Linked DNA regions of Homo sapiens. The protein of the gene in region 5 purifies or fractionates together with the protein of the main gene of each other region. This does not show direct contact. Each region holds a gene or a part of one and is shown on either strand. Other genes may lie near its edges. The genes, in order: GPN3, PPP2R2D, TBCE, DCAF1, ZFC3H1, PTCD3 and ZC3H18.

The links.
Region 1: the proteins of ZFC3H1 (region 5) and GPN3 purify together in Homo sapiens (affinity purification with mass spectrometry; 2 studies listed by BioGRID and IntAct, with this or other methods). This does not show direct contact.
Region 2: the proteins of ZFC3H1 (region 5) and PPP2R2D purify together in Homo sapiens (affinity purification with mass spectrometry; 2 studies listed by BioGRID and IntAct, with this or other methods). This does not show direct contact.
Region 3: the proteins of ZFC3H1 (region 5) and TBCE purify together in Homo sapiens (affinity purification with mass spectrometry; 2 studies listed by BioGRID and IntAct, with this or other methods). This does not show direct contact.
Region 4: the proteins of ZFC3H1 (region 5) and DCAF1 purify together in Homo sapiens (affinity purification with mass spectrometry; 3 studies listed by BioGRID and IntAct, with this or other methods). This does not show direct contact.
Region 6: the proteins of ZFC3H1 (region 5) and PTCD3 purify together in Homo sapiens (affinity purification with mass spectrometry; 2 studies listed by BioGRID and IntAct, with this or other methods). This does not show direct contact.
Region 7: the proteins of ZFC3H1 (region 5) and ZC3H18 purify together in Homo sapiens (affinity purification with mass spectrometry; 3 studies listed by BioGRID and IntAct, with this or other methods). This does not show direct contact.

The regions. Positions count from the first base shown.
Region 1 is NC_000012.12:110,458,258-110,461,757, forward strand, and holds part of GPN3 (GPN-loop GTPase 3), read right to left. Parts: intron 1,606-3,500; coding exon 1,438-1,605; intron 1-1,437. UniProt on the Homo sapiens protein: Small GTPase required for proper localization of RNA polymerase II (RNAPII). May act at an RNAP assembly step prior to nuclear import.
Region 2 is NC_000010.11:131,949,508-131,953,007, forward strand, and holds part of PPP2R2D (serine/threonine-protein phosphatase 2A 55 kDa regulatory subunit B delta isoform), read left to right. Parts: exon of another isoform or gene 1-897; intron 898-3,500. UniProt on the Homo sapiens protein: Substrate-recognition subunit of protein phosphatase 2A (PP2A) that plays a key role in cell cycle by controlling mitosis entry and exit. Involved in chromosome clustering during late mitosis by mediating dephosphorylation of MKI67.
Region 3 is NC_000001.11:235,429,927-235,433,426, forward strand, and holds part of TBCE (tubulin-specific chaperone E), read left to right. Parts: intron 1-778; coding exon 779-878; intron 879-3,019; coding exon of another isoform or gene 3,020-3,172; exon of another isoform or gene 3,173-3,306; intron 3,307-3,500. UniProt on the Homo sapiens protein: Tubulin-folding protein; involved in the second step of the tubulin folding pathway and in the regulation of tubulin heterodimer dissociation.
Region 4 is NC_000003.12:51,416,516-51,420,015, reverse strand, and holds part of DCAF1 (DDB1- and CUL4-associated factor 1), read left to right. Parts: coding exon 1-282; intron 283-1,139; coding exon 1,140-1,338; intron 1,339-1,817; coding exon 1,818-1,900; intron 1,901-3,144; coding exon 3,145-3,229; intron 3,230-3,500. UniProt on the Homo sapiens protein: Acts both as a substrate recognition component of E3 ubiquitin-protein ligase complexes and as an atypical serine/threonine-protein kinase, playing key roles in various processes such as cell cycle, telomerase regulation and histone modification.
Region 5 is NC_000012.12:71,625,849-71,629,348, reverse strand, and holds part of ZFC3H1 (zinc finger C3H1 domain-containing protein), read left to right. Parts: intron 1-311; coding exon 312-431; intron 432-1,414; coding exon 1,415-1,598; intron 1,599-2,902; coding exon 2,903-3,089; intron 3,090-3,500. UniProt on the Homo sapiens protein: Subunit of the trimeric poly(A) tail exosome targeting (PAXT) complex, a complex that directs a subset of long and polyadenylated poly(A) RNAs for exosomal degradation. The RNA exosome is fundamental for the degradation of RNA in eukaryotic nuclei.
Region 6 is NC_000002.12:86,126,735-86,130,234, forward strand, and holds part of PTCD3 (small ribosomal subunit protein mS39 precursor), read left to right. Parts: intron 1-426; coding exon 427-571; intron 572-1,206; coding exon 1,207-1,257; intron 1,258-3,500. UniProt on the Homo sapiens protein: Mitochondrial RNA-binding protein that has a role in mitochondrial translation.
Region 7 is NC_000016.10:88,622,403-88,625,902, reverse strand, and holds part of ZC3H18 (zinc finger CCCH domain-containing protein 18), read right to left. Parts: intron 2,685-3,500; coding exon 2,559-2,684; intron 1,946-2,558; coding exon 1,841-1,945; intron 1,302-1,840; coding exon 1,158-1,301; intron 702-1,157; coding exon 636-701; intron 1-635.

The DNA.
Region 1 (3,500 bases), about 39 Mb from region 5:
ATAGCTTGAGCCCAGGACTTTGAGAGCAGCCTGAGCAATATAGTGAGATCCTATCTCTACAAAAATAAATAAATAAGTGCTACAAAGATATCTATAGTTTGGGAATATTCATCAAGCTGTATACTTATGACATATATACTTTTCTGTGGGTATATGTATGGTCAATTAAAAGCAAGGGGAAAAAAGTGAGGGCCATAAATGGTCAAAGCCAGGTTAGGCTCAAGTTGAAAATTCACAATTTGGGCTGGAGGTGGTGGCTCACACCAGTAATCCCAGCATTTGGGAGGCCGAGGCAGGTGAATCACCTAAGGTCCAGAGTTTGAGACCAGCCTGGCCAACACAGTGAAACCCTGTCTCTACTAAAAATACAAAAATAGCCGGGTGTGGTGGTGGGTGCCTGTAATCCCAGCTACTTGGGAGACTGAGACAGGAGAATCACTTGAACCCAGGAAGTGGAGACTGGAGTGAGCCGAGATGGCGCCATCATACTCCAGCCTGGGTGACAGGAATGAAACTCAGTCTCAAAAAAAAGAAAAAAAAAAAAGAAAATTCACGATTTGGCTTCAGAAGCCATGATGTGCTATTATCTGTCTCCTACCAGTCACACCTCATGACAATTGCCTCTTTGTTTATTATGCTCCAGCCACACTGGCCTTTTCAGTGCCTTAAAACAGCTTTGTTCCTTCCTCCTGGGAGGTGTTCAGCAGGCTGTGCCCTCTGCCTTCCTCACCCTCAGCCTCCAGCCCAGCTGAAAGGCCGCCTCAGATGCCTCTCTAACCGCCATTATCTGTGTGATGATCTGTGCTACTCCTGTGGAATACTCAATGACAACTGAATATTAAATAATCATTTGGATGCTTTTTGTTTGTACTGTCTCGAGTTCTGCCAAATGTGAGCTCCATGAGGCCAGAGACCATGGCCATCTGTGCTCTATGGTATTCCCAGTGTACAAAGCAAGCACTTAATAGATATACTTTTTTTTGTTTTTTTTTTTTGTTTTTGAGACAGAGTCTCATTCTGTTGCCCAGGCTGGAGTGTAGTGGTACAATCTTGGCTCACTGCAAGCTCCACCTCCCAGGTTCATGCCATTCTCTTGCCTCAGCCTCCCGAGCAGCTGGGACTACAGGCGCCCGCCACCATGCCTGGCTAATTTTTTGTATTTTTAGTAGAGACAGGGTTTCACCATGTTAGCCAGGATGGTCTCGATCTCCTGACCTCGTGATCCACCTGCCTCGGCCTCCCAAAGTGATGGGATTACAGGCGTGAGCCACTGCGCCCGGCCTCAACAGATATACTTAGTAAGTGACAGCCATTGAATAAGCTTGGTACTTTACTGCAGTATAGTTTAGAGCTACAAATACTCACTCTCCTTTCTCCTACTAAGGATGGAACTATCAAGACTTTAAGGAAGACAATGCATTCAAATTGTTGATTCACCTGGACAATCAAAAAGGATATAGTCGTCCTCTACATGGCCAAGACAGTTCTCCAGCCAGTCAAAATTATTGGCAAAGTACTCCATGCAAAATACCAATCCTCCGTTGGGACCGAATCGCAGAGAATCATCCTCCATTACATCATCCACCTCGATCAGTTCCCGGATGTCTGAAAAGGACAGATAGGGCCCAGAATATATGTGTCCCTTCAAAAATTGTTATCCTTACTAGAAATAGAACATAAAAGTTAATAATTACATAAAAAACCCATATGCAGGAAATTATTTATGTACATGGCTTTTCCCTGTAGCAGTGTCCATCAATAGAGAACTGAGCAAATAAATTATTGTACAGCCCGACAATGGAATACTACACAGCCATAAATGGGGAAAATCTCTTTAAGTATTAATAATAATACAATCTCCTAGGTATATTGTTCAGTGAAAAATGCAAGGTGCAGAACTGTGTAAGAATGCTATCATTGGTGTTAATAAAAGACAAAAATTCACTACATAGACATAATACATATACATCTTGAATTTTATGTGCACAGGCTATGAAAGAACACACCAGAAACTGGTAACACTGGCTGCTGCCAGGGAGGGGAGCTGATTGCTGGGATGCAGAGCTGAGAGGAAGATGTTTTCCTGTATACTTACTCTTTAGTACTTTTACATTATGAACCATGTGAATATGTATTACCTATTCCAAAAAAGTACAAAACCAAAAAAAGAAAACAGATTACCATTTCTTAACACAATGACACTAAGGAAACTATTTCACCTCCTTGAGCCTCACTTTCCTTATCCTGGGTTAGAAGGATGAGAACTATGAGATAATATATCAAAATCACCATCAGGGGCTGGGTGCGGTGACTCCTGCCTGTAATCCCAGCACTTTGGATGAGGCAGGCGGATCACTTGAGGTCAGGAGTTCAAGACTAGCCTGGCCAACATGCTGAAACCTGTCTCTACTAAAAATATAGAAATTAGGCTGGGCATGGTGGCTCATGCCTGTAATCCCAGCACTTTGGGAGGCCGAGGTGGGGGGATCATGAGATCAGGAGTTCGAGACCAGCCTGGCGAACATGGTGAAGCCCCATCTCTACTAAAAATACAAAAATTAGCAGGCATGGCGGCGCACGCCTGTAGTTCTAGCCACTCCGGAGGCTGAGGCAGGAGAATCACTTGAACCCAGCAGGCAGAGGTTGCAGTGAGCCAAGATCACGCCACTGCTCTCAAGCCCAGGCGACAGAGCAAGACTCCATCTCACTTTCCAACTTGGACCCAGCAGAATGGCTCCTGCAAAGAAGGGTGGCGAGAAGAAAAAGGGCCATTCTGCCATCAACGAAGTGGTAACCCGAGAATACACCATCAACATTCACAAGCACATCTATGGAGTGGGCTTCAAGAAGCGTGCCCCTCAGGCACTCAAAGAGATTCAGAAATTTGCCATGAAGGAGATGGGAACTCCAGATGTGCGCATTGATACCAGGCTCAACAAAGCTGTCTGGGCCAAAGGAATAAGGAATGTCCCATACTGAATCCGTGTGCAGCTGTCCAGAAAACGTAATGAGGATGAAGATTCACCAAATAAGCCATATACTTTGGTTACCTATGTACCTGTCACCACTTTCAAAAATCTACAGACAATGTCGATGAGAACTAATCACTGATCGTCAAATACATCAAATAAAGTTATAAAATTGAAAAAAAAAAAGACTCCATCTCAAACAAAAACAAACAAAAATAGAAAAATTAGTCAGGTGTGCTGGCATGTGCCTGTAATCCCAGCTGCTCGGGAGGCTGAGGCAGGAGAATCACTTGAACCCAGGAGGCAGAGGATGTAGTGAGATGACATGGTACCACTGCACTCCAGCCTGGGTGGCAGAGAGAGACTGTCTCAGGAAAAAAAAAATCACCAACAGGAGAGGCTTAAAAAATTCTGGTATGGTTATCTTACTAATTTTGGGGAATCAGTATATAGAATCTTCTACCTTAGGTTTTTACTTATTTTTGTGCTCAAACCTACATTCTCCATTCACAAAGGACTGAGCTTCATTCA
Region 2 (3,500 bases), on a different chromosome or scaffold from region 5:
AAGCACATACAGGAAAAGCCACCGTGAGCAAGTCAGCAGAACCACAGCAGAACTGAACCTCCGAGAAGGCAGCTGTTGAGATCCTAAGTTAAAGAAGATAAACTAAGAATGCTTGAGATATTCACAGACTAGAGGAAGGAAACAGCCTGAACCAGGAGCCACATGACCGCTAAACGTGACCTGGAGACTGGAAAGGAATCAGAGGGAACATCTAGAAATGACAAGTATGATACATGACCGCCAAACATGACGTGGAGACTGGAAAGGAGTCAGAGAACATCTAGAAATGACAAGTATGATACATGACCGCCAAACATGACGTGGAGACTGGAAAGGAGTCAGAGAACATCTAGAAATGACAAGTATGATACATGACCGCCAAACATGACGTGGAGACTGGAAAGGAGTCAGAGAACATCTAGAAATGACAAGTATGATACATGACCGCCAAACATGACGTGGAGACTGGAAAGGAGTCAGAGAACATCTAGAAATGACAAGTATGATACATGACCGCCAAACATGACGTGGAGACTGGAAAGGAGTCAGAGAACATCTAGAAATGACAAGTATGACAGATGAAACTGTGTGGGTTTAGCAGCAGGTCCATTTTGGCTAAACAGATCTTGTATTAGTGGATGGAAAGGAAAACCAGAAGAAATGCGGGCTAAAGAGCCAAACAGAAAACAAGAGACACTAGGAACCGTGGAGGCCAGGGTGAGGCACAGCACACGTTTAAACAAAGTTTGGGGGTGTGAGGCTTAAAGTGACAGTGGCCAGCAATTTTCTCTAAATTATGAAAGCCTGAATACACAGGATCGGGAGCACAGCATCCATCCATCTCATAATGAAATTGCAGGACACCAAACGCAAAGAGAATATCTTAAATGCACCCAAGGAAAAAACGCAAATTACCTCTGAGAGCGGACACCGAGACTGAGACTCGGCTTTGCCACGGCCACAGTGGGAGCCAGAAGCCGTGTGACAGATCCAGCAAGTGTGACTCCTTACTCTCCACCGCCAGCTTAGAATCAAGCCTTGAAGTAGATGCTCGTTCAAGAATCTGCTTGTGATAAAGGCATTTTCAAATGGGAAACAATGTATCACAACAGGAAACTCAGTAGAGCGAGCTGTAAAGGGAGCCTGGCCCTGCAGAAAGGGGCTGAGACAGATAGGCAGAGGAACGCAGCCTGCAGGGAAGAGCAGTGCAAACTCTGAAGCTCTGCCACCTGGACGGCCTTAGTTATCTGTGTTTGGGGGAGAAAAATTAGAGCCCTCACCAGCCCCACACAATAAATAAATAAGCTCTGAGTGTTTCTAAGCCTAAGACATCTTTGTGAGCTCTGGAAACAAGGGCTTCTTTAAGAAGGCCCCAAAAGCCCAAGGAAAACATTAAGAAATTCAACTACATTAAATTTTAAACTTCTTTATATTGAAATTAAAAGTGAAAACAAAATCCACAAAAGGATAACGAACAGAGATTAAGTATCCAGAATAGGTGCAGAATTAGTTGTCAACAAGAAGGTGGCAAACAACTCAGAAAAGAGCAAAAACCATGAATGGGGTTTCGCAGAAATGGAAAAATAAATAGAAATGCTCATCCTTCTTAGTGATCAGCAAGTAAAGCCAGAGGGACGTCCTTTCATGCCCATCAGAATGATGATGGTTTGGGGGAGAGGGTGGAGACCAGTGGTCTTACCCAGTACCCTTCTTGTGACCTCCTTGGTGACATTCAGTCGGGTTGGGAGCTTCTTGCATGTTCAGACAAGAAAACGTGCTCAGATACCTGAAATAGCAAACAACTGGAGACAGCCCACAGGTGCATCATTAGAGGAATGGACAGGTAAGTTGTTCTCTATCATAACATATACTGAAAAGCAGTGAGAATCAATTATTAGAACTACATGGATCACCTAGGTGGATCTCACAAAGATAATCCACAAAGAAAATTCAGGAGGAATGCGTACGGTGCAATGACATACAACATGTTTAAGACATACAAGACGGTTTTGTTTTAAGAATCTGTAACTATTGGCCAGGCGCAGTGGCTCACACCTGTAATCCCAGCACTTTGGGAGGCTGAGGAGGGCGGATCACGAGGTCAGGAGTTCGAGAGCAGCCTGACCAACATAGTGAAACCCCATCTCTACTAGAAATACAAAAATTAGCCGGACATGGTGGTGCATGCCTTTAATCCCACCACTCAGGAGGCTGAGGCAGGAGAATCGCTTGAACCTTGGAGGTGGAGGTTGCAGTAAGCTGAGATTGTGCCACTGCACTCCAGCCTGGGCGATAGAGTGAGACTCTGTCTCAAAAAAAAACAAAAAAAATCTGTATACAAAATATAAATGTGTGTGGGGATGACACATATGTACTCTAGCAAGTGAGGACCCCAACTGGGGATGGGATAGGAGACCATCTTTCTTTCCAGAGTGGCAACACAGTGCAGGGGGGTCCCTGTCTTAGCAGTGACTTGCTGGTGTGCAGAGGGGTCACTCTCTTAGCAGTGACTTGCGGGTGTGCAGGGGGTTCACCACCTTACCAGTGACTTGCAGGGGGTCCCTGTCTTAACAGTGACTTGCGGGTGTGCAGGGGGGTTCGCTGTCTTAGCAGTGACTTGCGGGTGTGCGGGGGGGTTCACTGTCTTAGCAGTGACTTGCGGGTGTGCAGGGGGTTTCACTGTCTTAGCAGTGACTTGCGGGTGTGCGGGGGGGTTCACTGTCTTAGCAGTGACTTGGGGGGTCCCTGTCTTAGCAGTGACTTGCGGGTGTGCGGGGGTTCACTGTCTTAGTGACTTGCGGGTGTGCGGGGGGTTCACTGTCTTAGTGATTTGCATGTGTGGGGGGGGTTCACTGTCTTAGTGACTTGCGGGTGTGCGGGGGTTCACTGTCTTAGTGACTTGCGGGTGTGCGGGGGTTCACTGTCTTAGCAGTGACTTGTGGGTGTGCGGGGGTTCACTGTCTTAGTGACTTGGTGTGCGGGGGGGTTCACTGTCTTAGTGACTTGTGGGTGTGCGGGTGGTTCACTGTCTTAGTGACTTGCGGGTGTGCGGGGGGTTCACTAGTGACTTGCGGGTGTGCGGGGGGTTCACTGTCTTAGTGACTTGCGGGTGTGCGGGGGGTTCACTGTCTTAGTGACTTGCGGGTGTGCGGGGGGGTTCACTTAGTGACTTTCGGGTGTGTGGGGGTTCACTGTCTTAGTGACTTGCGGGTGTGCGGGGTTCACTGTCTTAGTGACTTGCGGGTGTGCGGGGGGTTCACTGTCTTAGTGACTTGCGGGTGTGCAGGGGGTTCACTTAGCAGTGACTTGCGGGTGTGTGTGTGGGGTTCACTGTCTTAGCAGTGACTTGCGGGGGGGGTCCCTGTCTTATCAGTGACTTGCGGGTGTGTGTGGGGGGTTCACTGTCTTAGCAGTGACTTGCGGGGGGGGTCCCTGTCTTATCAGTGACTTGCGAGTGTGCGGGGGTTCACTGTCTTAGTGACTTGCGGGTGTGCAGGGGG
Region 3 (3,500 bases), on a different chromosome or scaffold from region 5:
AGGCTAGTCTTGAACTCCTGACCTCAGGTGATCCATCTGCCTTGGCCTCCCAAAGTGCTGGGATTACAGGCGTGAGCTACCGTGCCCAGCACAGGTTTCCCCTTTCATTCTTGAACCATTTTTGCATAGACATGTGAGTGTACAGTAAAGCCGGTAGACAGGCCTGAATGAGTTGTGCTCCCAAATAGAGCAAACGGGGGCAATTCAACCCATGGTGTCTCATCTTCTGGAAATACGGGCTTGTGTTTTTTAATAGTATCGTCTTTCAAAGTGACTGTCAGGATTGAATACTTTCTGAGATTAGGGTTTTGAGAAATAATTTAAGGGGCAATAATTTCATCCATCCTCATAGCCAAAGGGCAGACTCTATGTTTAGAGAAGCAAAATTCTAGCCCATGATTCAGTGTATCAGTAAGACTCTGGAGAACGGGACTTTGTTTTGCAGTATCCAGAGCCATATCTTGTGAAGCTGGAAGCTCACCTTGCAAATGCCTGAGTTTTGGGTTTAGGAAGCCTACAGCCGCATACAGGTGCCCTAATCCTGTGAAAGCATCTTTACACAGCTGATACCAAAAAGTTGTATGTTGTAAATGTTAAAAATTAGGTAGTCTTGATTCACTTGAATCATTAAAAAAGTGATTTTTAAAATATAATTCCATTTTAAGATTGAAACAAATCAAACCCCTTAGATTAAAACCCAGATTGTTGCTTTCAACAACTATTTCAGTTGGGTTTACTGTATAGAAATAAGTACATTGTATCTTTTTTTTCTACACAGTGAAAATAAACTAAAATTTCCCTCCGGTTCAGTATTAACTGGAACGCTTTCTGTACTGAAGGTTTTAGTCCTCAATCAAACAGGAATAACGTGGGCTGAGGTAATCATATTTCTTTGTTTTATTACACATTAATAAGCAATTAAAAATGTTTGGTTTAATAGAGAATTGTTAGTACAGTTTAATAGTACAACTGTGGCTTCATTTAAATCATCCCAGTATCTATTAATAGATAACAAGATTCATTAAAGTGCCTTATAAAAACGAGTTAAAAGAGCATCATAGTTGAGTTTTGCATCTGGAAATCCATGTCCTATCTCAGCTCATTTTGACTTGTTCTGGTGCCTTTATAAACAGTGGCGCTCCGTTATGGTATGAACCAGTATGTGCTGAGCTTCAAAAAGCCGTAGTGTTGGCTATTGACTAGCTTCCTGAGTTTTCCTGTTAGTTTTTTTTAGAACAGAAGCCAAGCAGCAGAAAGGTTCTCACATACTTTTCTTGTTAGAAGTTCGGCTCTTGGAATCCACTGTTCATTTTATACAGCCGGGCTCAAAAGTAGACTTGTGGGTCCTTGGCACAGCAGCATTTGGGACTTATATCTGGCAGTACTATTTCCTGTCTGAGGTGTACTGACTTCACACACCCAGAGCATTCCACTTTCTTTTTTTTTTTTTTTGAGACGGAGTTTTACTCTTGTTGCCCAGGCTAGAGTGCAATGGTGCAACCTTGGCTCACTGCAACCTTTGCCTCCCAGGTTCAAGCGATTCTCCCACCTCAGCCTCCCAAGTAGCTGGGATTACAGGCATGTGCCATCACACCCAGCTAATTTTGCATTTTTAGTAGAGACATGGTTTCTCCATGTTGGTCAGGCTGGTCTCGAACTCCTGACCTCAAGTGATTTGCCCGCCTCGGCCTCCCAAAGTGCTGGGATTAGAGGTGTAAGCCACCGTGCCCAGCCCACTTTCATTTTTATTTATTTATTTTTCTTGAGACAGAGTCTCACTCTGTTGCCCAAGGTGGAGTGCAGTGGCGCAATCTCGGCTCACTGCAACCTCCGCCTCCCAGGTTCAAGTGATTCTTCCGCGTCAGCCTCTCAGGTAGCTGGGATTACAGGCATGTACCACCATGCCCAGCTAATTTTGTATCTTTAGTAGAGACAGAGTTTCTCCATGTTGGTCAGGCTGGTCTCGAACTCCTGACTTCAGGTGATCCACCCACCTCGGCCTGCTAAAGTCCTGGGATTACAGGCGTGAGCCACCGTGCCCAGCCCACTTTCATTTTTATTTATTTATTTTTCTTGAGACAGAGTCTCGCTCTGTTGCCCAAGTTGGAGTGCAGTGGCATGATCTCGGCTCACTGCAACCTCCGTCTCCTGGGTTCAAGCAATTCTCCAGCCTCAGCCTCCAAAGTAGCTGGGATTACAGGCGCTTGCCACCATGCCCAGCTTATTTTTGTATTTTTAGTAGGGACAGGGTTTCACCATGTTGGCCAGGATGGTCTTGAACTCCTGACCTCAAATGATCTGCCTGTCTCAGCCTCCCAAAATGCTGGGATTACAGGCGTGAGCCACTGTGCCCAGCTTGGGCATTCCACTTTCAAACCAAGGGTGTAGAAATACATTCCCAGCCATGTTCACCCAGGAAGTGCCACAGAGGCCACTCAGTGAGAGACAGGTGGGCCCCTTGTGCCCTTAATATGCCCGTGGCCATGGAGCCTCTTTCCTAGGGCCCCTCCTCTGTGAGGCGCTTACTCCCTCTCAAGGTGTAGATGTAGCTGGAAGACAAGAAGGGGCCAGACACTGGCACTGGGGCTCACACCTGCAATCCCAGCGCTTTGGGAGGCTGAGGTGGGAGGATCACTTGAGCCCAGGAGTTTGAGGCTGCAGTGAGCTAGGATTGCACCTTTGCACTCCAGCCTGGGTGACAGAGCAAGACGCATCTCACCCTCCAAATAAACTAGGAAGGGCACACAGAAATTGAAGTGGTGGAGATGGCAGTAAAGTTCCAGTGAGAAAATTTAGAAATAGTTGGTGAGGCTGGTCATGGTGGCTCTCGCCTATAATTCCAGCCAGCACTTTGAGAGGCCCAGGCAGGAGAATCACTTGAGGCCAGGAGTTCAAGACCCACCTAGGCAACATAGAGAGATCCTGTAGATGCTATATATATATTATATATTATTATACATAATTATATAATATATAATAATTTTTTGTAATTTTTTTTTTTGTAAAAAAAAAAAATTAGGCTCATGCGCAGTGTGGTGGCAGCAGGCACGGTCTCGACATGCAGAAAGACGCCAGCAAGTTCGTGGATCTGTGCGTGCTGCAGAAATGCTCCACCAGCAACTGCATCATCAGTGCCAAGGACCACACATCCATGCGGATGAACGTGGCCAAGGCCAGTGAGGTCACGGGCAGGTTTAACAGCCAGTTTAAAACCTGTGCTATCTGCAGGACTGTTTGCAGGATGGGTGAGTCAGATGATTCCATTCTCTAATTGGCCATGGCCAAGGGCGTCATCTCAACTATTTGGTTTTTGAGATGGAGTCTTGCTCTGTTGCCTAGGCTGGAGTGCAGTGGTGTGATATTGGCTCACTGCAACCTCTGCCTCCTGGGCCAAAATGATTCTCCTGCGTCAGCCTCCCAAGTAGCTGGGATTACAGACGTGCACTACCACGCCTGGCTAATTTTTTGTATTTTTAGTAGAGATGGGTTTTCACCACGTT
Region 4 (3,500 bases), on a different chromosome or scaffold from region 5:
CCAAAGCCCAGCCATAAAAAAACAGCTGGACAGACATCTTCCTTCCCCACCTACGCTGGACAGTATAATCACAGAGTATCTTAGAGAACAACATGCTCGCTGCAAGAATCCAGTTGCCACCTGCCCACCTTTCTCCCTCTTTACTCCTCACCAATGTCCTGAGCCAAAACAGAGGCGGCAAGCGCCAATAAACTTTACGTCAAGGCTAAACCGCAGGGCATCATTTCCAAAGTATGGAGGGGTGGATGGCGGATGCTTTGATAGGCACCTTATCTTTAGCAGGTAAGAAGAGGCCCCTTCTTACTCCCTGGGAATTGGAATGATTCTTTTATTTAAATCAAACTGGGCAGTATCAGCATAGTTGTCCTGAAATACCACTGATTGTTACTTTGTGTAATACTTGAACAATGTAATTGTACCACCTTTTGTCAACCATGGGTTCCTTGTGTGATTGTTGGCAGTATATTGATATAATCGTTTGTGTTCTCATCTCAACTAGTATGTTTTCTAGAACCCACACCCCCTCATTACTACTGTCCATAAGGAGGCTCCCAAACTTGTGCTGGTGCAAGTTGCTTCCTGTTCTGATTCTTGACAAATCTTACATAAAGGTTACGGGATCACAGGTTTTAAACATGGGAATTTTTTTTTTTTTTGGAGACGGAGTCTCTCTATCGCCCAGGCTGGAGTACAGTGGTGCTATCTTGGCTCACTGCAACCTCTGCCTCCTAGGTTCGAGTGATTCTCCTGCCTCAGCCTCCTGAGTAGCTGGGATTACAGGCAGGCACCACCATATCTAGCTAATTTTTGCATTTTTAGTAGAGATGGGGTTTTACCATGTTGGCCAGGCTGGTCTTGAATTCCTGACCTCAATTGATACCCCCCCTTCGGCCTCCCAAAGTGCTAGGATTATAGGCATGAGCCACTGTGTCTGGCCTAAACATGGGAATTTTTGTTATTTAAATTTGTAAGTGGAAATCTTTTTCTTATTTAAAATAAAAAGCACTGAAGGTCACTGTGATTTTGGAAGAAGCCATTTGAAACATTAATGTTCTGTGCTTTTTCTTCTATCCTAGCAGTTTGCTTTTTCTGAGTCCCTGCACATTCTTTGCCTGTGATTCTCTCTTTTTTTTGCTTAGATTCCGTCCTATTTCAGTGTTCCGGGAAGCCAATGAAGATGAGAGTGGCTTCACCTGCTGTGCATTCTCAGCACGGGAGCGGTTCCTGATGCTTGGCACCTGCACAGGGCAGCTGAAGCTCTATAATGTGTTTAGTGGACAGGAGGAGGCCAGCTATAACTGTCACAACTCAGCCATCACACATCTTGAACCTTCCAGGGTAAGGGTTCCTTCCTAGGATGCTCTCAGTCATTCTTCCAAGATGAATTGGTGAACTAGAGTAAAGGAGGCTTACCCTTTATTGAGCTCTCTCTTTTAAATGAGTCCTCAACTGGAAAGTCTAGTTGAGGTTAATTCATATTTCAGATGGAGACTGAGGAATATGGCAAAGTTAGTAGGAAGAAAGGAACCATCTTTGACATCTTCTCATTTTCCCCCCTCCCTTTTATCTATTCTATTTTTGTGGCTAGTTCAGTAGGATTTAATATTCTCTTAAGTTTGGTTATTTTATAGGACACTATAGGTGTATGTATTCAAATCCTAGTGGCTTCTGACCATTTCTTGGTTTCTGGGGATTATAAAATTGTCTCTTTAATTCAACAACATTTTTATGCAAATCTTTAAAAATGCTAATGGCAGGTAGTGACATCTGCATGTATGTAAATACGTGGTTACCCACCTTGCGCCTTTTTCTTTTAGGATGGGTCCTTGCTGCTGACATCTGCTACTTGGAGCCAGCCTTTGTCTGCACTTTGGGGAATGAAGTCAGTATTTGATATGAAGTATGTATCTGCTTTTGGAACCTAGTCTGTGCTTTATTTACCTAGTTTATACCCCCCTTCATTTGGTTCTTAGACTGGAAGCCTTTTGGGGAAAGAGGATGCTGTCGGTTATTGTTAACTTCTCTCTTCCTCATCTAAGACTCATGTTTAATAAGACTTTATCTTTCTTAATTCCTAGATACTTTTATGAGGTATATACATTCTCATTATGCAGCAGACCCCGACCCAGAATCTATGTATTTTCCCATGTTCACATAGGACATTGCAGTCTTTGCTGTGTCTCCTCTCCTCTCCTCTCCCCTCCCCTCCCCCCTCACCTCCCCTCCTTTTCTCTCTCCTCTCTTCTCCTCTCCTTTCCTTTCCTTTCCTTTTTTTTTTCTTTTTTTTATTTTTTGTGAGACAGAGTCTCGTTCTGTCGCCCAGGCTGGAGTGCAGTGGCGCGATCTCAGCCTACTGCAAGCTCCGCCTCCCGGGTTCACACCGTTCTCCTGCCTTAGCCTCCCGAGCAGCTGGGACTAGAGGCGCCCGCCACCACACCTGGCTAATATTTTATATTTTTAGTAGAGACAGCGTTTCACTGTGTTAGCCAGGATGGTGTTGATCTCCTGACCTTGTGATCCGCTGGCCTTGGCCTCCCAAAGTGCTGGGATTACAGGCCTGAGCCACCGCACCTGGCCTTTTCTTTTCTTTCCTTCTTTAGACGGGGTCTCATTCTGTCACTTAGGTTGGAGTGCGGTGGCACAAACATGACCTACTGCAACCTCCACCTCCCAGGCTCAAGTGATCCTCTCATCTCAGCCTGCTGAGTAGCTGGGACCACAGGCATATGCCACCACGCCTGGCTAATTTTTTGCATTTTTGATAGAGATAGGGTTTCGACATGTTGCCCAGGGTGGTCTCGAACTCCTGAGCTTAGACAATCCACCTGCCTCAGCCTCTCAAAGTGCTGGGATTGTAGGAGTGAGCTACCATGCCTGGCCCCTTTGCTGCGTGTTTCAAAGGCACATGTGCCCTGTTTGTCATTTCTCTAAGGAATTCCCATTCATTATTTTGTATCTGCTTGGTTAAGGTGATAGAAGGAATTTTCTTTGTAATCTAAGTGTATGATTGTTTCCTCTTTGGGAGTCCAGGATCTTTAGGTGAGTGTGATTGTGCAAGAGGCTGGGGGTCACCTGTGTTTCAGTTGGTTGCAGGAATATGTCCTGAAGATCTGTCACTTCAGTGCTCCTGTTGTTTGTCCATAGGCATTCCTTCACAGAAGATCACTATGTTGAGTTCAGTAAGCACTCCCAGGATCGGGTCATCGGCACAAAAGGAGACATTGCCCACGTAAGTACTTAAGAACCACTGTTTTCAAGCTGATCATACCCATTTGTTCATACTGAAATCTTCTTGATAGAATGTGAGGACCTAAGTCCTTTGGGCAACTAGAAATCAGTGATATTCCTTCTAGTTAGAATCTAAAAGTATGATAATATAGTTCTGAGCTGTATGGGAAAAATGTATAAGGGCTAAATGTGACATTGAGAAAGATGTCATTAGCACCACAGATATTTTTGAATTCTTAGTAAGTTTTAGATTAGAAATGAAACCCCTGCCT
Region 5 (3,500 bases):
CTAAAAATAGAAAAATTAGCCGGGTGGTGGTGGCGTGTGCCTGCAGCCTCAGCTACTTGGGAGGCTGAGGCAGGAAAATCACTTGAACCCGAGAGGCGGAGGTTGCAGTGAGCTGAGATCGCGCCACTGCACTCACTGCACTCCAGCCTGGGTGACAGAGTGAGACTTCCATCTCAAAAAAAAAAAAAAAATACGTATCATTTCTAAGATGGAGTGAATGTAGTTCTTCTCAAATATTATTTGAGTATCCTTCAAAATGTTAAAAAAAAAACTAGTTATATCAATTAACAATCTTCTCCTATCTACTTTAGCTCCTCCATTTACAACCTACAAAGATAAAAGAAAGTGGAAGCCAAAGTTTTGGAGAAAACCTATTTCAGATAATAGCTTCAGTAGTGATGAGGAACAGTCTACAGGACCAATTAAGTATGGTAAGAAGTTATGTAATTTAAGATCCAGAATTATTAAATTGTGGTGTTCCATCTTTATTTAACACTTTGCTAATCCTTTGGTGTATCAGCCTGCCTGGTTAAAAAAAAATTTTTTTTAAAAACGATGCCATTGGGTTTTTAGACAATACAGTTAATTCACTGTGCAGGATTGCCTCTGAAATTGCGGGATATTTGTGTTCATGGCTCCTCTCCAGTAAATGCAAGGAGCACTGCTTAGTTAATAATTATGACTGCTTCAGATATTTCCAAACATACATTAGTTGGTGGGGAAGGTAGCTCCCGTTTGAGAACCACTGCCTAGCCTGTGTCCTCCTTAAGGGCAGGTGTTCTATTTTACTTCATCTTTGAATATGTTTTCTGACATGCAGAAGGCTCAAAAGATGAGAATGAACAAATGATGAATGAACTAATGAACAAAATAATGTATGAATGAGTGCCTGTATGTTAGGCACATTTTACTTTCTAATTTCAAGTTTGCATTATTTGTGAATTAGCAAGTATCCAAGAGATGTATGCTATTATGTACTTATTTACACTAACGTAACACTGTTTTTCTAGTTTAGATATAGTAGAATAATCTTTATAAATTATGACTTTTAATTTCTTAATTATAATTTGCAGTTTAACAAATGTGAATTCATTTGATAATAATGAAAAAGCAGTTGAATCATAGTTACTGTTAAGTGGACTGAAAAGGTAATGTCACTTAGCCTTAAAATAGCAGAGTTCTAATTACTCCTTTTGTTCTGGTGTAATTTTTAGTAGCACCTCTTTCCACTCAGAAGGGTCCTGGTTTGGGTGATAAATTATGTCATAGCTCTACCTTAAAGCTGTGAGCTAGTACATGTCATTAGAATCTTTAGGTTTTTAAGTTACTTTAAAGATGAGACCAATTGTTTTCTTTTTCTTGCATCTGTGGACTAAAGAAAATGTGAAGCTAATAATACTTTTTTTTTAAATAGCTTTCCAGCCAGAGAACCAAATAAATGTTCCAGCTCTGGATACAGTTGTCACTCCAGATGATGTCAGATACTTTACAAATGAGACTGATGACATCGCTAATTTAGAAGCAAGTGTGCTTGAAAATCCTTCTCATGTACAACTTTGGCTCAAGCTTGCGTACAAGTACTTGAATCAAAATGAGGGGTAGGTCAACTTCAAATCTTTGTGTAAACAGTTGCACATTTATATTTTTATGTTTGAGGTTTTTTTACCTATGGTAATCAGTCAGGTTTCTTTCCTAGTATCAATGGAGTCTTTGTTTTTTGACAAAGCCAAAAGCATTTTATTGTTTAAAAGCTATTAGACAAGTTTAAGATTAGATCTTGAGTTTGTGTGCATGGCTCAGTGTATGGGTAATAAATTATACTAAAGTTTTTTACTCCAGTAGGCTCTTATTTCAAAGTAGGATTAGTTAAAACAGTAAATTCTGACTAGTGGAATGGTTGATTGTTTTTTAAAAAAATCATAGTAGTCATAGTTTGTTAATAAAATTATGATAAAATAATGGTGGAACAGGTTAAATTTTGTTAATTTGTAATGGATATTTAAAGCTTATCTGAGAACTTCCAAATTATGGTGAATTTTCTTTCTGTCTCTGTCATATTAAATTATATGTATTTAAATAAGGTAAATGGTAATAACTTATACAACCAATAGTTTGTATTGCAAATGGCATCTTCTAACTTCTTGGTAGTAGAAATAAGCCAAGAATAATCTTTTCATAATTATAACTTTATAGTTACAATAATTCAAGGGTTTTTTTTTTTTACACGTTTCTTTGAAATATTTGACTATCTTAAAGCTTTTAAATAAGGCAGTGCTGCAGAGTGCTAATAAACCCACACATGCCTGGATGTGTTGCTTATTTAACTTTCCTGTGTGTCATTTCCATGTTAATGGGATAAGTTACAGTGTTTTCTTTTCTGACTCATTTACTGAGTGAAGGCCAAAAGAACCATACATTATTTTATGAATAGGATCATGAGAAAGAATTATCTTCTCCAAGAGATAGCAAGCCCTTGACCGTTGAAAAGAACTATTATACTGAAAGCTTTGATATTTTGTACTTGCAGTAGCTGGCCTTGAGAGAGAGTTGTTTAACTTTTCGCATTCCCAAATGGTGTAAATCATAAAAGGTATTGCTGAATATGGACATAAAGCACATTTGAAGTTGATAATCTTAGTGGTTTTATAACACTGTACTTTTATCTGTGGTAAATGCTTACTGAACATTCACTTAAAAAAATTGTTGGGTCTGTGGAAAATCAGAAACTTTTAGGCATGTGATTTAAAATCTGAAATCTAGTACCCCTTTTCATAAGTGATCCTGACTTCTTGGTAAATTCTAGTAGAAAATGGAATTTTAAAATTGACTCATTGGATTAGCCCTATTTAAATTTTCAAGCAGGTTCTAAAAAGCACTTCCACCTTTTCTTTTATATATACAGGGAGTGCTCAGAATCCTTGGATTCTGCTTTAAATGTTCTGGCGCGAGCATTGGAAAATAACAAAGACAATCCAGAAATTTGGTGCCATTACCTCAGATTGTTCTCAAAAAGAGGAACCAAGGACGAGGTGCAGGAAATGTGTGAAACAGCTGTTGAATATGCTCCAGATTATCAAAGCTTTTGGACTGTGAGTAGAAAAGATAACGTACGTGTGTGTGTGTGTGTGTGTGTGTGTGTATAATTATTTGGATCATCTTAAAAATTGATAAGTAGCTTAATAGAGCATATGCTTTATCTGAATATAGACATAATAACCTTACTTTCAGTTTCTAGTAACCACAAAGCCACTTCTGGATCAGAATTTAGACTAAGCAAGAAGAAAATATTTAGTGAAGAGGTGATTTTTTTGTTGTTGTTAACTTTATTGGTAAAGAAAAAATGTAAAATTGTTAAAAATTTCACACTTACCTATTTTTACACAGTTTTAGTTTGGGCAAAGTTAAGTGTAGCTTTTGCAAAACACCTGAAAAAATTGTTTCTTTTAAATTTATCTTAAATTGCCTCTATAAAATTATAATGACTGCCAGGAAACATTTTT
Region 6 (3,500 bases), on a different chromosome or scaffold from region 5:
GCTGAGGCAGGAGAATCACCTCAGCCCACGAGGCAGAGGTTGCAGTGAGCCAAGATCGCACCACTGCACTCCAGCCTGGGCAAGAAGAGCGAAACTTTGTCTCAAAAAAAAAAAAAAACCAACCACTTTTTTATATCATACTAGTCTATTATTTTTGCGTCTTTTCTTGGAAAACTCTCCTAGGTAGAAGACTGAAGACAGTTGACCACCTCTATCAAGTGGGGTGGGTGTTTGAATTAGCAGGCTTCTTTAAAAGGCAGAATCATGGAACCTGCTAATTAATAAACAGTTCTTAAAAGAGGGATATAGTTACTAACCTGCTTTAAACATAAGCAAGAAAGCTAAATTCTTTACTTTGTATGAAACATAGATTATTGGACAGATTACCCAGGCATGAAAGATACTTCTTGTTTTTTATTCACCTAGGAGCTGCTAAGACACATGGTTGCACAGAAGGTGAAACCAAATCTTCAGACTTTTAATACCATTCTGAAATGTCTCCGAAGATTTCATGTGTTTGCAAGATCGCCAGCCTTACAGGTTTTACGTGAAATGAAAGCCATTGGAATAGGTGAGGATGCGCCCTTGAGTTCTCTGAGGACAGAGACTGTGCCAGCCAGAGGTTTCAGGGCTACATAAGCAAAGAGCTTTAAATTATTCTTGTGCTTACATAATATGTTGGAAATTTTCTTTCCATGTTTGGCACATTTACTTACATGTACTTATTATAGTGGGAGTGCCTTTATCATCTTAGTGTTCATTAGTATTTTAGGTACTTTGTTTATGGATCTGTTGAATCTGAGGAGAAGTGATTGCTTTGAGTTAGCTAGTTTTAAATTCATGACATTTTCCCAACATAATTAGGTATTTGAACCTAAGTGTGTGCTAGTGTATTGTATATTTTTCATTAATTACTTTATTGAAAGTTGCTTTGGGAATCAATTCACTTCAATATATTTTACTGTTCTCAGTGAAGAATGTGACTAATAAGTATTTGGACTTTCAAAAAGTGATACAGTCTTTGTGATAGTTTTTTACCTTTACATTAATGAGTTGGAAAATAACTTTGTTCAAAGGAATAGAAATGCATATTTTGCTTAAATATTAACAATATGTTTTTAATTCAGTGTGTCTCAGTAAACTATGTTTTGGATTGCTGTGTTTTTACCTCATTGTTTATTTTTTCTGTCTACCTGGTAATTTGAGAACCCTCGCTTGCAACATATCACCATATTATTCGCCTGTTTGATCAACCTGGTATGTATGGCCTTAAATTGTGTTAATTTATATAGAAAATTGACCAGCTTTCTTGAGTTTATGTGATTAATTGTTGTAGTTATCTTCTCTGCATATGAATTAAGAAGAGAGAATTTGTAAATTAACCTGTACAGCCTGAGCAGAAAGTTGTGGTTTTTTTAGATACAGGATCTTGCCCATTGCAGCCTTGAACTCCTGGGCTCAAACAGTCCTCCCTCCTCAGCCTCCTGAGTAGTTAGGATTACAGATGCCCACCAGCATGCCTAGCTGATTTTTTTTTTTTTTTTTTGGACAGGGTCTTACTACCTAAAATTATTCTTGAGGGTAGCAATCTTGTTTGTGGTCTAAAACTTGAGCTGGAGGGGAGAGGGTTATGGATTGTACTGGCAGTGATGTTGTACAAACAGGAATTGGGTAGAATATATTTTGGTTGAAATTCCTTTTGTTCTCTGGAGCTGTGCTATTTAACACCATAGCCACTAGCCACATGTGGCCAGTTAATTAAAATTAAGTAAAATAATAAATTATTTTGTCACATTGGTGCTCAGTAGCCATGTGTCTAGTGGCTACCATGTGTCGTGATGCAGATTCAGAACATTTCCATCTTTGCCAAAAGTTTGTGGACGTTTCTGCTCCAGAGGAAAGGTAAACTTATTGTGAAGCGTTTTGGGAGGACCTCAAGGCTCCATGCGTTGTCCACTTTTAGGTCAGTTCCAGTGGGAGCTCTGCTCTGTAGTAGATGGACTTTGAAGAGAGACACACCTGAGCTGAGATGTCCACTCTACCATTTATTTACCAGCTATGTCAAAGCGACTAGATACCTACCTGAGGAATAGCAGCAGGGTGTGGTAGTTAAATGAGTTCCACACTGTGTCTGCTACTGTGCTTGGAGGGCACATATGAGGCACTCAAAATCTTTTGGTTCTTGTCCATTATCCCCAGCCTGAGAAATAACCCTTGAGTTCAGAATTGACAGTTCTAGTCATTCTTTCTTGTGGATAGACTATAAAAATTACAGAAGGGAAGTTGTTTCTCTCTGGTTTGGAGGACTAATTTTGTAAAATCCATATCCTCACCTGTATAGGCAAATTTTATCTTTAGGAAAAGGAACCAGTTAATTGACTATACCTTGGAAACAGGTAAACAGTTTCCATAATTGTGTCCCCTAAAATTTTACTCAACCTTGGTGAGATTGTGATGGAGCTAGTATTTCTGACTCCAAAGTATATTCCTTTCCTCTGTAACTCTCATCACTGGTTCAATTGCTAATCAAAGTCAGATGTACTTACATTTCCTAAGTAACAGCCAGGACTGGGGGATGGGGGTTCTGGGGGAGCTGTGTTGGTTTGTCTTATGTATATAAATTTGCCTGTCTGCAGCAGTAGTTTTGGCTTACGCCTGTAATCCCAGCAATTTAGGAAGCCAAGGCAGGAGGATTGCTTGAGCCCAGGAGTTTGAAACCAACATAGAGAGACCTCCATGTCTACTAAACATGAAAAAAGTAGCTGGGCATGGTGGCGCACCCCTGTAGTCCCAGCTACTCAGGAGTGTGAGGCAGGAGGATTGCTTGTGGCCAGGAGGTTGAAGCTGCAGTAAGCTGCGTTTGCCCCACTGCACTCCAGCCTAGGTGACAGAGCAAGACCCTGTCTCAATAGTAATAATAATTTCTAGGAATTTACCCAAAAGAGAGAGCCTAAAATAACCTAGAAACAATACATTGAAAAGAGAATATTATGTAACTAATAAAATTAAGAATATTAGCAAAGGGAAGCATGCTTGAGTAAATTGTGAAACTCTATCTGTACTGTCATTACAGCTTTACTACCACAAACATACAAAACAGGTAGGGAAAGGAGTGTAGAGAAATATTTGACTGGGAATATTGCAGATGATTTTCTGACCTATTAGTGCTCAGTTCATGTTATATTTAAGAACTGCCCTGTCCATTAATTCTAGTTTACTTTTTCTTGACCTCATTCTGATTATATTTAAAGGGAACACAAATGATTACTAGCAAAAAACATTTTTAGCCGGGTGCAGTGGCTCATGCCTGTAGTCCCAGCACTTTGGGAGGCCGAGGCGGGCAGATCACGAGGTCAGGAGTTCAAGACCAGCCTGACCAACATGGGGAAACCCCTCCTCTACTAAAAATACAAAAAATTAGCCAGGCGTGGTGGCGAGGGCGTTAGTCCCAGCTGCTCGGAAGGCTGAGGCAGGAGAATCGCTTGAACCCGGGAGGCGGA
Region 7 (3,500 bases), on a different chromosome or scaffold from region 5:
CCATTGCACTCCAGCCTGGGCAACAAGAATGAAACTGTCTCAAAAAAAAAAAAAAAAAAAAAAATCTTTTTCTGTGGAGATGGGGTCTATGTTGCTCAGGCTGGTCAAGTCCTGGGCTCAAGCAATCCTCCTGCCTTGGCCTCCCACGGTGCTGGGATCACAGGTGTGAGCCGCCGCACCTGGCCCACAAAGCTTTTCCATGTATTCTCTTCTCAGATGTTTTTATCGGCTTCCCCACCCCCTCAGGCCGGTTCCCTCGACAGGTGTGATAGGTCACGCAGGCCCAGCCTCTGCCCTGCTGGGCTGGAAGCTGCCGGCTCCTCCCCAGGTGCAGGTGCTCTCTCAGGGTGCTGGGCATCAAGTCAGCAGGGCAGAGGCACCTCCTCCTGACCTGAGTGCCCCCGAGTTTGTGAATCTTTTTTTGGTGGGGGGAGGGGGTCTTCCTATCACGAGTCCTGGCCCATTTTCTCCTGTGTCAAAGCTTCAACCGCAGCCTTCCACAGCCCCAGGGTGACTCAGATCCAGAAGGGCCCCAGCCCACCTGTGGGAGACAGCCCAACCCACACTGGCTGCTTCTGGGACTTCCTGGCCCCGACGGGGAGGGAGAAACAGAGGCACAGGGTGATGGGGATGACCTGGATCGGGAGCTGGAACCACTATAGCTGCTACCACTGCCACTGCCGCTGCCGCTTAGCGTCCGCCTGTAATACAAGCAACAGCGGGGCTCAGGGGGCGTGGCCTCCACAGCCCCTCGCGGCCTCCCCTCCCCACCAGCAGCCCTGTGAGGTGAGCCTCCAGACTGGCCTTGCTACCACCTTGGAACAGGGCCTGGGCCTGTCTTCCTTTAGGCTCAGTGTTTTGTCAAGATAAAAAGTACAGTCTCTCGGGGGCAGCACCTTCCAGTGCAGACGGGGCCATGGCGGGAAGGCCTGTGCTCCGTGCCACGCTGTCCCTTCCCCTTCACGCTCCAGAAACACAGGCTCAGGGAGGGGACAGGGCAGGTTCCCGGGTAAGGGCTCACTGGGTGCTGCTCGGCTAGGGGGCGCTTCCCACCACCTGGCTCTGGACCCTGGCACTCTGGATTTCCAGCAGTGCCAGCATCACAGTGGCACCAAGAACACGGAAAGCCTGAGGGCCCCGGACGCCGGAGTGCTCACCTCCTGGGGGGGGTCCTGGCTGGCCGCTCCTTCCTCCTGGCTTCCCGAGGGTCTCCTGGCTTGGTGGGCTCGGGGACAGGAGCAGTGGTTTTGGTGGCCTGTGGTGGGGCTGGAGGCGGGGCCGGCTTCTTCACTGACTTCTCTCTGTGAGACAGGGAGGCTCGAGCAGGGCAGGGCTGGTGGACGGGGCCCCGCTGGCCTACATCCCCTTTCAATGGACCCACAGCTCGGGGAACGACACTGCATGCCTGTGACGCTCGGTGAGCACGCTCGTGCCTGGACACGGCTCCCCACCCATCGGTGTCAGAGTGCTTGGGAACGGCTTCAAAGCCCCCAGCAGCCCTTCCAGGCTCCCCTCTAACAGGCAAGAGCTACAGGCACCGCCAGGCAGTGGGGAGAGCAGGCTAATAGGAAGACCCCTTAAGAACACCCGGCTGCTGCCGTGTCCCCAGGGCTGTGCTCTGTCCCCAGGGTTCCCGAGGGAGTGCTGCTGTGTAAGGGTGGCCCGTGAGAACAGGAGCTGTGCCCAGTGCCTCCCAGCCCAGTCACCCCCTGGGGCCAGCCCCCTGAGGCATCCTCACCTCTTTGGTCCCAAACACAAATGAGAGATAGAGACGGAGGGAGGAGGCTGCAGCCTGTGGAGGCCTGGCCGGCCAGGACTTGCCCACAGGCTGGGCACTCACCCTGCTTTCCCGGGCGGCGGGGCCGGCTCTCCCTTGGTTCTGATGGAAGGTCTATGTGGGGAAGGTGTTGGGGACGGGGACGGGGACGAAGAGAAGGACCGGGACCTAGGGGAGTGAACAAAGGTGTCGGAAGGGGCCTGGGGGTGTTTCTTCACCAGCCCAAGCCCACTGAGGACCCACCCAGACCCATGGAGAAGGCCACGAATTTCCATTTATGTGCCTCAGTTTTAACTTCAGTTCTGGACTGTTCTGTCATCTGCTAAAAACACAGGCCCAGAGTAGACCAGAGAGCGTGGAAGGTGTCAGCATCCACTGGCGGGTCCTCCGGGAGGCGAGTGTCACGTTCATGTGTGTGCAGGACAGGAGGAGACAGGCTCCTTGGCAGTGGGGCAGCAGCACAGCTCCCATAGAAACACCCACAGGACAGGGCTGGGTCTGGCCCCTTCCTCGGCCTGTCTGCGGAGGACTGGAGTGCCTCAACTCGAGGATCTCAGGCTGTGGCCCTCAGTGACAGCACGCATCTACACAAGGACGAGGGCCCGCAAGGCTGGTGTTTGGTGGGGGACACAGGACACGACCCCCTGGCCATCCTAGTTCAGCTGCCAGCAGGGACCTTCAATACCCCAAGGGGCTACTGGCGCCACAACTAAAGCCACATCCGCAGGTGCCCTTGCTCACTGCACCTGCTGAGGGCCCTTCATGGGCCCTGGGGACATACCTGGACCGGCTTCCTGAGAACGAGCTGTGTCTGGAAGAGCGGCTGGAGTAGGAGCTGTAGGATGAAGACCGGGATCGCGACCGGGAGGAGCCGGAGCCAGAGTAGGACGATGACCGCGAAGACGACCTGGGGCGGGCGGGACGGAGCGTGGCGAGAAGTGAGAAGGGCCCTCCCTGCCCCACACGCCCTGACGCACACATGCACAGCTACACACCCACAGACGCACAGCTACACACAAGCGCACAGCTGCGCACGCGCGCACAGCTGCAGACGCGCGCACAGACGCATACAGCCTCCCCCAGACACTCTTCAGTGCCATCCCTCCTTGGTGCAGAACGGCATTTAGAAATCAAGACCTGGGCGTGGGGTGTGCCTGCTGTTACCGGGTGGCGCTGCCTGAGTGGGCAGACCCAGCTCACGTGGGTCCGTGTGTGTGTCTATCTGTTCATCTGCATCCACTTTCAGTGAAGCCTGGCCTCCCACCCACACCTCCTGTTCCTGCCGAGCATGATGGGGTCTACCCCGGCCCCCTGCTTTCCATCATCCCTCACTCGGGAGCCGGGCTCCTGTGTGCTGAGACCAGGACCGTAGGTGGAGGGGCAACAGTTTCAGGTCCAGTCTGGAGGAACAGATGGACTCACTGGGCCCCAGGTCTGTGCGTCCTCCCGCATCCAGGTGCCCCTCCCTCCAGTGTGGCCTGTGACTCCCTGGGAGCAGTCAGGCTCAGTCGCCGGGGTCTGTGCCCCATTTGGGGTCACTGCGTCAGTCCTACTTGGCATTGATGCTCTTTGCTGAAGGTATAAACGCCGGGTTAGTCCCACTGACTGGTCTGCAGGTAACGACGCCACAGCAAACAGTGGGGCTGGGGTGTTCCCCACCTGACCCAGTGAGGTACATGGTGTCAGCTGACGGCTCCAAGGTGCTGACACCCCAGCCGTCCCA